Homo sapiens: one gene and its partners. The protein of the gene in region 2 interacts with the protein of the main gene of each other region in a pairwise test. Each region holds a gene or a part of one and is shown on either strand. Other genes may lie near its edges. The genes, in order: A2M, LYN and GAB1.

The links.
Region 1: the proteins of LYN (region 2) and A2M interact in binary tests that used the Homo sapiens proteins (3 or more experiments, as listed by UniProt).
Region 3: the proteins of LYN (region 2) and GAB1 interact in binary tests that used the Homo sapiens proteins (3 or more experiments, as listed by UniProt).

What each region holds. Positions count from the first base shown.
Region 1 is NC_000012.12:9,098,804-9,102,461, reverse strand, and holds part of A2M (alpha-2-macroglobulin isoform a precursor), read left to right. Parts: intron 1-787; coding exon 788-1,015; intron 1,016-1,254; coding exon 1,255-1,318; intron 1,319-2,938; coding exon 2,939-3,081; intron 3,082-3,658. UniProt on the Homo sapiens protein: Is able to inhibit all four classes of proteinases by a unique 'trapping' mechanism. This protein has a peptide stretch, called the 'bait region' which contains specific cleavage sites for different proteinases.
Region 2 is NC_000008.11:55,886,301-55,889,958, forward strand, and holds part of LYN (tyrosine-protein kinase Lyn), read left to right. Parts: intron 1-3,658. UniProt on the Homo sapiens protein: Non-receptor tyrosine-protein kinase that transmits signals from cell surface receptors and plays an important role in the regulation of innate and adaptive immune responses, hematopoiesis, responses to growth factors and cytokines, integrin signaling, but also responses to DNA damage and genotoxic agents.
Region 3 is NC_000004.12:143,469,280-143,472,937, forward strand, and holds part of GAB1 (GRB2-associated-binding protein 1), read left to right. Parts: 3' UTR 1-3,658. UniProt on the Homo sapiens protein: Adapter protein that plays a role in intracellular signaling cascades triggered by activated receptor-type kinases. Plays a role in FGFR1 signaling. Probably involved in signaling by the epidermal growth factor receptor (EGFR) and the insulin receptor (INSR).

The DNA of each region.
Region 1 (3,658 bases), on a different chromosome or scaffold from region 2:
GGTGGATTGCGTGAGGCCAGGAGATCGAGACGAGCCTAGGCAACGTGGTGAAACCCTGTCTCTACAAAATATACAAAAAATTAGCTGGGTGGGGTGGCATGCACCTGTAGTCCTAGCAACTCAGGAGGCTGACTGGGAGGATCACTTGAGCCCCAGAGGCAGAGATTGCACTGAGCCAAGATTGTGCCACTGTACTCCAGCATGGGCGCCAGAGCAAAACCCTGTCTCAAAAAAATAATAATAATAGCAATCAGCCTAAGATAGCCCAGAAGAGGTAGACTTCAGCTAATTCATCAGCTCAGCTCTTAAACCAATGCTTTCTACCAATGTCTTCTCAGACCCCTAAGGTTACAATATTTTATTTATTCATAATACCCATTCAAAATCCACCCTAAAAGAGGCAGCTGCTTTCTGAAAGCACAGTTCTTCCATTTCTAGAGATTATTTACTCTCCTCAATGAAGTTTCATAGCTCCAGTGTCTCTAATTGCACAGGTAAAGCAGTCAAAGAAATTTCAAGCAAGCTAATCAGAGCAAAGGATGCCTCCTTTTATGCTCTTAAGAAATATAAATCTCAATCCCAGGAGGCTCTGCAGTGTAAAGTCACAAAGCATGCCTACATTTGAAGCAGAGAAACAAAATCAGGGGTCCTTCTCCCACTTTTCATTGTGGAACAAAAGATTTCTAGCTACTAGTTAAGGTAGGACAGTAAACTTACGTAGTTTTGTGAGAACATTAATCTTTATGACGTATAATCTAAAAATAATATAATTTTTCTAATTCATTAGGTCAATTACAAGGATCGTAGTCCCTGTTACGGCTACCAGTGGGTGTCAGAAGAACACGAAGAGGCACATCACACTGCTTATCTTGTGTTCTCCCCAAGCAAGAGCTTTGTCCACCTTGAGCCCATGTCTCATGAACTACCCTGTGGCCATACTCAGACAGTCCAGGCACATTATATTCTGAATGGAGGCACCCTGCTGGGGCTGAAGAAGCTCTCCTTCTATTATCTGGTGAGAAGGGAGGTTACTGCGTTGACTTCACTGTAGACAAAAGCTCTCTGTGGAGCAAGTAATCATGAAGCTCTTTAGATGTCATTACTTCAACTTCTTATCCATGTTCCTTTTGAAAGTTTGATTTCTCTTGAGGTGAATTATTGCCGGCAGGGACTCAATAAAACAAGTATATTGAAGTGAGACTGAAGCGTGTTCTCTCTGGCACATTTAATTTCTTTTTATTTCCTTTTTTGCAGATAATGGCAAAGGGAGGCATTGTCCGAACTGGGACTCATGGACTGCTTGTGAAGCAGGAAGACAGTGAGTATTTCCATCATCTCTGCATTGCTGCCCCATTCTGACCCATTCAGCCTTACACCACGGAAGTATCAGAATACTTTCCCTTTTTTTCCATAGGTTTTTGGGGGAACAGGTGGTGTTTGGTCACATGAATGAATAAATTCTTTGGTAGTGATTTCCGAGATTTTGGTGCACCCATCACCCGAGCAGTATACATTGTACCCAATTTGCAGTCTTTTATCCCTCACCCCCTTCCACCCTTCCCCCTGAATCCACAAAGTCCATTGTATCATTCTTATGCCTTTGCATCCTCATAACTTAGCTCCCACTTCCTAATAGCTTAGCTGCCACTTCCTAATAGCTTAGCTCCTACTTCTGAGTGAGAAGATATGATGTTTGGTTTTCCATTCCTGAGCTGGGAATATCAGGAATACTTTCAAGTAACGAGAGACCATTTCCATCTAATATTAATTAAAAGAAAGTTGAGGGAGGGAAAACAATAATGGTTTTTTTCTCACCCTTTATCAAATATGTGTTGTCTTTTTTTTCAGCCTATTTTCTTTGCGTTATTTAAAATATTGGTGTGGGCCAGCTATGATGGCTTACGCCTGTAATCCCAGTACTTTGGGAGAACGGGATGGGAGGATCTCTTGAGGTCAGGAGTTTGAGACCAGCCTGGTCAACATAGTGAGACCCCATCTCTATAAAAGTAAATAAATAAATAAATAAATAAATAAGAACAAAGGGGGAAAAATAAAATACATAAAATATTGTTGTGTATAATCTATGCTTATTCCAGATTTTTAAACCATAAATATTCTTGAACCTCTTCTCAAAATGAGAATTGTGTTAGAGAATGGGGTGGAGAAAATGTACGATTTCAAGGTATGTTGTATATACCAGGTCTTGTGCTGAGTCATTTATGTCATTTATATTATTATAAATATCTTTTTTCCCTTTCAAGATAGTTATGATTTATGAAGCATTAAATTGGGTACTTCTACCGACTGAAGCGGACTCTTGCCATGAGCAAATATGTCATAATATAAACCTTTGAAGGTTGCTCCTAGTCTAGTAGACTCTAAAAGATAACTTGCTAGAAAAGTATCAGTAATCTACTCTCTCATTAGTTCTTGTAGCAACACAGAAGCACCATAGCAGACTGAAGGAAACTTAATGCAACCTCTAAAGAATCTACATAGGCATCAAAAAATAACTTCTGAAGGAGCATGGTGTTCCTCTTATGGAGAAAGAACCAAATATTGGCTCATAGAAGGTTAAAGAGCATGTAGCATGAATACAATGTGTTGAACTCTTACTCTTACATCTCATAACTTCAGGTTCTATTTCCCTCTTCTAGTATGAGGCCTAGATCAAATGGTAGTGAATTGGATGTCTTCATACCCTTAACTAGCATCAGAACATTAGGTGGGTGAGCTGAAGCTTAAAGCTGGTGAAAAATCAACAGAGTATATGATTTATGAGAGGAGAGAGGGCTTTGATAGGGTTTTTTTCTAAAGCTAGAGTCCTTAGAGGTAATCATCCATTTGTTACATCTACTGTTTATTATGTCTGTTACATCTACTAATGGAAATAGTCATTAACCTATGATGGCTTCCTCTCATTCTCTTTGTGCCCCAGTGAAGGGCCATTTTTCCATCTCAATCCCTGTGAAGTCAGACATTGCTCCTGTCGCTCGGTTGCTCATCTATGCTGTTTTACCTACCGGGGACGTGATTGGGGATTCTGCAAAATATGATGTTGAAAATTGTCTGGCCAACAAGGTGTGTGTTTTAGATCATAAAATCTTCAACATGTAAAACTAGAAGTTACTATTGTTATCATTTGTTTTACACATGTGAACATTAGGGCCAAAAGGGTTAAACAAATTCCCCAGAGACATTCAGCAAGGTAGTGGCAGAGTCACACTAAGAAGCAGAATCACTTGATTCCTTATACAAAACTCTCAAACTTCTCCTAGCAGTGCCTCTTACCAATTACACAGTTCAGAGTATGTTATTCCCTTCTTCTATGATGAAACGTTGGGAAATATGTAAGCAAGTTTTTAAGACTACTAAGGAGCCAAAAGAAAAATGCAAGAGCACCTAGACCCATGCATGTCCCACCACAATTAATGAGCACCTTGCCGTGTATCAAAGATAAAAATGGCATTTCATGACTAGTAATTTATAAGAATAATTAGAAATAATTCTACTGGCTCAAGTGATTCTTGAGAATGAAAGAGAAGTGTAGGGAACAAAAAGCTTCAGGATTGACACAATGCCAACCCTCCACGAAGTCAAGCAGAGTGGTTATACATTGTACATGAGGAACACTCTGCAAATGCGAGTGAATGCATGG
Region 2 (3,658 bases):
TGCAATCTCCACTCACTGCAACCCCTCCTCCCAGGTTCAAGCGATTCTGCTGCCTCAGCCTCCCGAGTAGCTGGGATTACAGGCATGCACCAATGCACCACCATGCCCGGCTAATTTTTGTATTTTTAGTAGAGACAGGGTTTCATCATGTTGGCCAGCCTGGTCTCGAACACCTGACCTCAGGTGATCTGCCTGCCTCGGCCTCCCAAAGTGCTGGGATTACAGGCATGAGCCACGCGCCCAGCCTGTCAAACTTATTTGACCACAACCCATAGCAAGAAACATTTTACCTTGTGCTCAAATACACATATCTGTAGGCAAAACAAAATAGAAAAAGGAAAATACAATCTGGTGGAACAGCCCCTCCCCTTAACTTGCAGGGGAATGTGGCCTGGAGCAGCTTTTCTGAGGTAGGATTGGCCAGCTCCATCAGAGTTTGTTTGTTCTGATGCATAATAGATATACATAGTTTCAGGGCACATGTGATAATTTAATACATCATATAATTTGTAAAGATTAAATCAGTATTTGCGATAGCCATCACCTTAAATATTTGTTTTCTTTTTAAATGCTGAATCTTTTGAATTCTTCTAGCTGTTTTGAAATGCACAATAGTTAATGGTGAACTCTAGTCACCCTACCAGGTCTTATTTCTTCTATCAAACAGTATATTTGTATCCATTAATCAACATATTTTCATCCCCCCTTCCAACGTACAGAGATGGGCAGTCCAATAGGGAGGTTTATTAAACAAACACAAATTAAGTCACATTCATATAATGGGATACTTTGTAAATATCTTAAAAGATAAAACATTCAATTACAGTTACTAATATGAAAAATTTTTTTTCAAAAGCTGAACACGGCCAGGCGGCCAGGCGCAGTGGCCCTTGCCTGTAATCCCAGCACTCTGGGAGCATGAGGCAGGAGGATTGCTTGAGCTCAGGAGCTCGAAATCAGCCTGTGCAATTTGTCTCAAACAAACAAACAATAGCAAAAGAGCTGAACACAAACTAGTAGATGACATGATACCATTTCTGAAATAAAATATTCATATATGGACACATCATCTATAAACTGCATTTCAAACAATTTTTATACTAAGATCTTAATAGTGATTATTTCTGGGTGACAGTTGAGTGCTGTTTTTACTTCTGTACGTCTTTATATTTAAAAGAATGAGCATCCCATATATACATAAATATATATATAAATCCCACATATAAATATATACATAAATCCCATATAAAAATATAAATATATATATATATATATACACACACACACACACACACACACACACATATATATATATTTTTTTTTTCCTGAGACAGAGTCTTGCTCTGTCACCCAGGCTGGACTGTGATGGTGTGATCTCGGCTCACTGCAACCTCCACCTCCCGGGTTCAAGTGATTCCTGTGCTTCAGCCTCCTGAGTAGCTGGAATTACAGGCACACACCACCATGCCCAGCTACTTTTTGTATTTTTAGTACAGACAGGGCTTTGCTGTGTTGGCCAGGCTGGTCTCGAACTTCTGGCCTCAAGTTATCCGGCTGCCTCAGCCTCCCGAAATCCGGGGATTACAGGCATAAGTCATTGCGCCTGGCTCCTTATATGATTTTAAAACGGCAGGATATAAGGAGCAATGGAATGAAGCCAGTGGGACTGCAGAAGGCAGGTGGAAGCAGACAGGGAACTTTGGAGCTAGAGTGACTTGAAGGACGCTTGATGGATATAATTGTAAGAGTCCTGTCTCAGGAGAGCTGATGCGCTGTAAATGTTGTAAATAGAACATTTTCTTAAAGAACCTTCCACTGCTATGTTTAGTATTCAGTTTAGCAAACTTTTCCTGGGTAGCTACTGGGAGTCCCGCACAGTGTTAGGAGTTGGGGTACACACCTGCCATGTTGGTGGAAATCCTGAAGGGAGTGGGCCACACACCCTGGAAGAAGGGGCTTTCCTGAGGAAGGACAGCCTGACTATGCAGGGGTCATTCCACATTACCAGAGCTTGTTCCAGAGAGGCAGTGGGAGGCTCCACAGGCAGGCTTGGAGGGTGCTTGGCCCTAATACTAAATGTTGGACTTCATGGCATTAACGAAGGGGAATCACTGGAGCCTTTTAGTATGAAGCTAATCTTTTTGTCCATCACAGGCAACTTCTTGCCTACACTCTTTTACAATATGGCATTTATGACATAGCCAAGAGCGAAGACACGTTGAACACTGACTTAATGCTTTGAGTAGGTGGAGAGTTGAATGACTCAAGGCTACTTCTCTAGAGATTAATTTGAAGCTAGAAAGTAACATTTATTTCTGTTTTCTGTGACAGCAATAGGCTTCAGCTTGTAATCGTCATCTGCAAGTAGGTACTTGACACCTCCCCTAAGTGACCTGGAGAGTGACAGATACAGTAATGGGCACAATCCTTGGTTTTTTGTTTTGTTTTGTTTTTGAGACAGAGTCTCACTCTGTCATCCAGGCTGGAGTGCAGTGGTACGATCTCACTCACCAGGGATTTGGCCACCACGCCTGGCCGAATCCCTGGTTTTAAGCAAAATTTTAATATGGAGTTTATGGTTGTTGGTATAATGAAATGCGGCACCATAGCAGTTGATTTTTGTCTTTCAGAACCACACTGGCTTTTTGTATTATTTCAAATTTGATAGATGCCCAATGTATGTAACAAAAATTTTCCCTCACGTGTATTTCTTTCTTTATTTATTTGTATGTTTTGAGATGGGGTCTCACTCTGTCGCCCAGGCTGAAGTGCAGTGGTGCTATCTCGGCTCACTGCAACCTCCACCTCCCAGGCCCAAGCCATCCTCTCACCTCAGTACTGGGTAGCTAGGATTACAGGCCCCGCCACCAGGCCTGCGTAATTTTTTTGTTTTTTGGGAGGCCAAGGCAGGAGGATAATTTGAGCTCAGGAGTTTGAGACCAGGCTGTAACCCCAGGCAGGAGTACAGTGGTGCAGTCATAGCTCACTGCACCCTTGACCTCCTGGGCTCAAGCCATCTTCCCACTTCAGCCTCCAAGTAGCTGGGACTACAGGTGTGTGCCACTATGCCTGGCTTATTTTTTGTAGAGATGGGGTTTGGCCATGTTGGCCAGCCTGGTGTCAAACTCCTAAGCTCAAGGGATCCACCTGCCTCAGCCTCCCAAAGTGCTGTGCTGGGATTACAGGCGTGAGCCACCACACCCAGCCCAAGTATATTTATCGAGTGCTGTATGTCATGATAGTGGGTGGTTTGGGGGAATACCAACATAAATAAGTGGGAGGTTTCTATCCTAGAGGAGTTTATTGTGCTCTGTTCTCTCTGGATTGTTCACAAACCAGAATGCCGATCAAAGACTTTGCTAGGGTTGTGGGTGGGCGACTTGCTCAGGAGATCCCTGGCACCCAAATGAGTGCCCAGAAATCACTCTGAATGGTCAAAAGTAAGGCAGGGCAGGGCGGTAGAGCACAGGGTGTCGAATTAATTTCATGTGGGGGCTGAAATCCCAGGTCTGTCCCTTCCTAACTGTGGGCTGCTGCTGGCAAGGTGCTGGCCTTGCTAGCCTCAGAGTCCTCATGTTTAAACCTCAGCAGTTTGTTGTGAGTGTTCTAGGTTACAGTGGATTCCAAACTAGCCACAAGTGAAGCACATGGCTAAATG
Region 3 (3,658 bases), on a different chromosome or scaffold from region 2:
AGATCCTCAAATGAGTAGAGTTGAAGTCAAAGGACCTTTCTGACATAATCAAGCAATTTAGACTTAAGTGGTGCTTTGTGGTATCTGAACAATTCATAACATGTAAATAATGTGGGAAAATAGTATTGTTTAGCTCCCAGAGAAACATTTGTTCCACAGTTAACACACTCGTAGTATTACTGTATTTATGCACTTTTTCATCTAAAACATTGTTCTGGGTTTTCCCAATGTACCTTACCATAATTCCTTTGGGAGTTCTTGTTTTTTGTCACACTACTTTATATAACAATACTAAGTCAACTAAGCTACTTTTAGATTTGGAAATTGCTGTTTACAGTCTAACAACATTAAAATGAGAGGTAGATTCACAAGTTAGCTTTCTACCTGAAGCTTCAGGTGATAACCATTAGCTTATACTTGGACTCATCATTTGTTGCCTTCCAAAATGCTGAGGATAATGTATGTACTGGTGTCAGGACCTAGTTCTCTGGTTAATGTACATTTAGTTTTTAATGGTGGAACTTTGTTATATTTTGTTAATTACAGTGTTTTTGGTTCATTGAGTGAAGATTCTGCCGGGTGGGATCTTGCACCTTTGAAAGACTGAATAATTACACTACCAAGTAAGCCTGCAAATCATTGATGGCATGCAGTGATGATGTGCTCTTACACTTGTTAACATGTATTAAGTGTTATTTGCAAAAGGTAGATTATGTAACCAATCAGGTACGTACCAGGCAGTGATGTGCTAATACACTGATCAGGTTTAGACAATGAGCTTTGGTTGTGTTCTTGTTAGTCCTAATATTGGTTTTCAGTTTGGAATTAATAAAGCAGTTGACATTCACTGTTAGTTACAGCAACATACTGTGATTTTTAATTAGATAGTAATTCAGATTTATTACTCTATGAAATTCTGTCTTTTGACACCATAGTGCCCTTTCTATGATTTTTTTTACTTAATATTCTTCTTGGCCTTATATTTAATTCCCTATGCAATTAATATTTTATATCTGCATTTTTTTAAAAAAAATAGATGTTATATAAGTGATTCTCGTATGTAGCACCTGTTGCTTTTCCACTGAAAGAATTACGGATTTTGTACTGTGATTTATATTCACTGCCCCAATTCAAGAAATATTGGAGCCTTGCTACAATGTGAAATGTTATAGTCATGGACTCCTTCCAACCAGATTTCTGAAAACACCAGAGGGATGGTATAATTCTGTCTCACCTATAACATGGTCCTGTGACATAGATATTAAGACCACAAGTTGTAGTGAGGCTACAATTATATTCGTCTGTCTTGGCTTTGCAACATAATTTAGAAAGCACGTATAGTTGTTTTTTAACCAAGTTACATACAATCTCATGTACTGATTTGAGACTTATAACAATTTTTGGAGGGGGCATAGAGAAAGGAGTGCCCACAGTTGAGGCATGACCCCCTCCATTCAGACCTCTAACTGTTGCCTGAGTACACAGATGTGCCCTGATTTCTGGCCCATTGGCCATAGTACTGTGCCTAATCAATGTAATAGGTTTATTTTCCCAATCCTCAAACTAAAAATGTTCATAACAAGATGAATTGTAGACTAGTAACATTTGATGCTTTTAAATATTTGCTTCTTTTTAAACAAAAACTAAAACCCAGAAGTGAATTTTTAGGTGGATTTTTAAATAAAAAAGATTGATTGAGTTTGGTGTGCAAGCTGTTTTATAATGAAACAACAAAATGAAATCTAAAATCCTGAAATGTGCCTAAACTATCAAAACACACGATACAGCTAATGTGTAAAGATGCTAAATTCTGTTACTTGGAGGATGAATATATTTAAGATTTAAAACACAATAATAAATACATGATTAATTCAAAAATAAAAATCTTTACAGCTGCCTATCAAGGGTCTAAAGCACTTAATGAATGTTTTTAGTCTAACTTATCATTAACTTTTTACAAGTCACCATATTTGAAGATCTGTAGCACTCTGATTTTCAGAAAATTTTTCATTCTGAATAATTTAAAAATGGTGATGTATTAGAAAGGCAGTTTGCTTTAGAAAACTAAATCACATTGAACATTGTATTAGAGAATTAAATTAAAAGTTTCTTACAGAGCAGTATTTTCCAAACATTTTTAGCACTAGAATCTTTTTAGATGAAATTTTATGTATAACCCCAATACATAAAGCCTGAAAACTCAATTTTATCAATATAAATGTATTTTGGGTTCACATTTATGCTTATTCATTTTGGCTCATTACTAAGCATAATAAGATTCTGAGTTATTTCTGAATAACACAAATGTGGAGTTATACATAGTTGATGAAACCAGCAGCCAATTTATAGCTATGCCCTGTTTTATTTGTATACTATCAAGAAAATTTTGATTCACACAAATGTAAGCAAAAATAATAGGTTTTAAACATACATCTCAGGAAATTCTTTAATTAGAGATAGCTAAAGTTATTCAAGGTCTATACAAAAATAAGTTATCCTGGTAGTGGAAGTTAATACATAAGCAGTCTCCAGTGTGGTAAAGTAGGGTATGTAACACATCAGAATGTGCGTTTTTATTAGGTTTTAAAATATGCACGTATAAAAACTAAATTTGAATCAAACCCTTTTAACTCACCTCCAAGAAGCTAGACTTTGGCCAGGAATGGGCTAAAAACCACTGGTTAACGATGTGACAGTTATGATCTTGGAGATTGGAAATCTTTCTTCCACATTAGAGTTCTTTACCTTAATTCCTTATTCTGAAAAATTGTAAGATTTTATGAAGGTTTGAATACTGAAGCACAGTTCTGCTTTCAAAAATTAAAATTCAAACTTGAAAAAGCTGTTTAACCCATGGAAGATATCATTTAGTAAGATGTAAAAGATTTTTTAAATCTACACTTCAGTTTATACATCTTTATCATTATCAATACTATATAAGTTACTGTGAGCATTTTAGAGAATTCCATAAAGGTACTATGAGTGTGTCTGTATGTGTGTGTATATATAGCATTGTATTTAATCATAGACTAAATTTAATTTGATATAGAAATACTACTTTACTTGTACATTAAGGTCATAATTTCTGCTGGACTCTTTTATATTTAATTAATGGGGATTATAGTCTTCCTTCATAAATGCATTTAAACCTGAAATTGAACACCAGTGTTTTTCTTTTTCTACTTATGGGAAGTTGTCTGCTTCCCCCTTTAGAGAAAACAGTATTTTTATATTTTGTTAAAATATTAACTACTTTATGCCTACACACTATGCTGTAGATACTGATCATAATTCTTGGGTGTTCACAAACACTCCTAGTGCCTCTTTTTTGGCCCGTTGAAAGTGTTGGTATTACTACTTTCACTACAGAGCCTTTGGCCCTCTAATAATGCTGAGGTGGGCTGATCCTTCCCATTTCTGTCTTCGGGTCATTCTGGTAGGTCTTCTCCTCCACTGTCAAGTAAGCAATCAGGTCCGTGACAGGGATTGGACATATGAACAAATTAAGTGGATACACACAGTGAGAAAGATACATGCATTCTATGGTAACAACTACTGTCAATAACATCTGATGTTACATGCACATTTATATATATATAATTTTAAAAACTGAACTATGAGAAGCCATGGTATAAATGAATATTGTGGACATCATGGA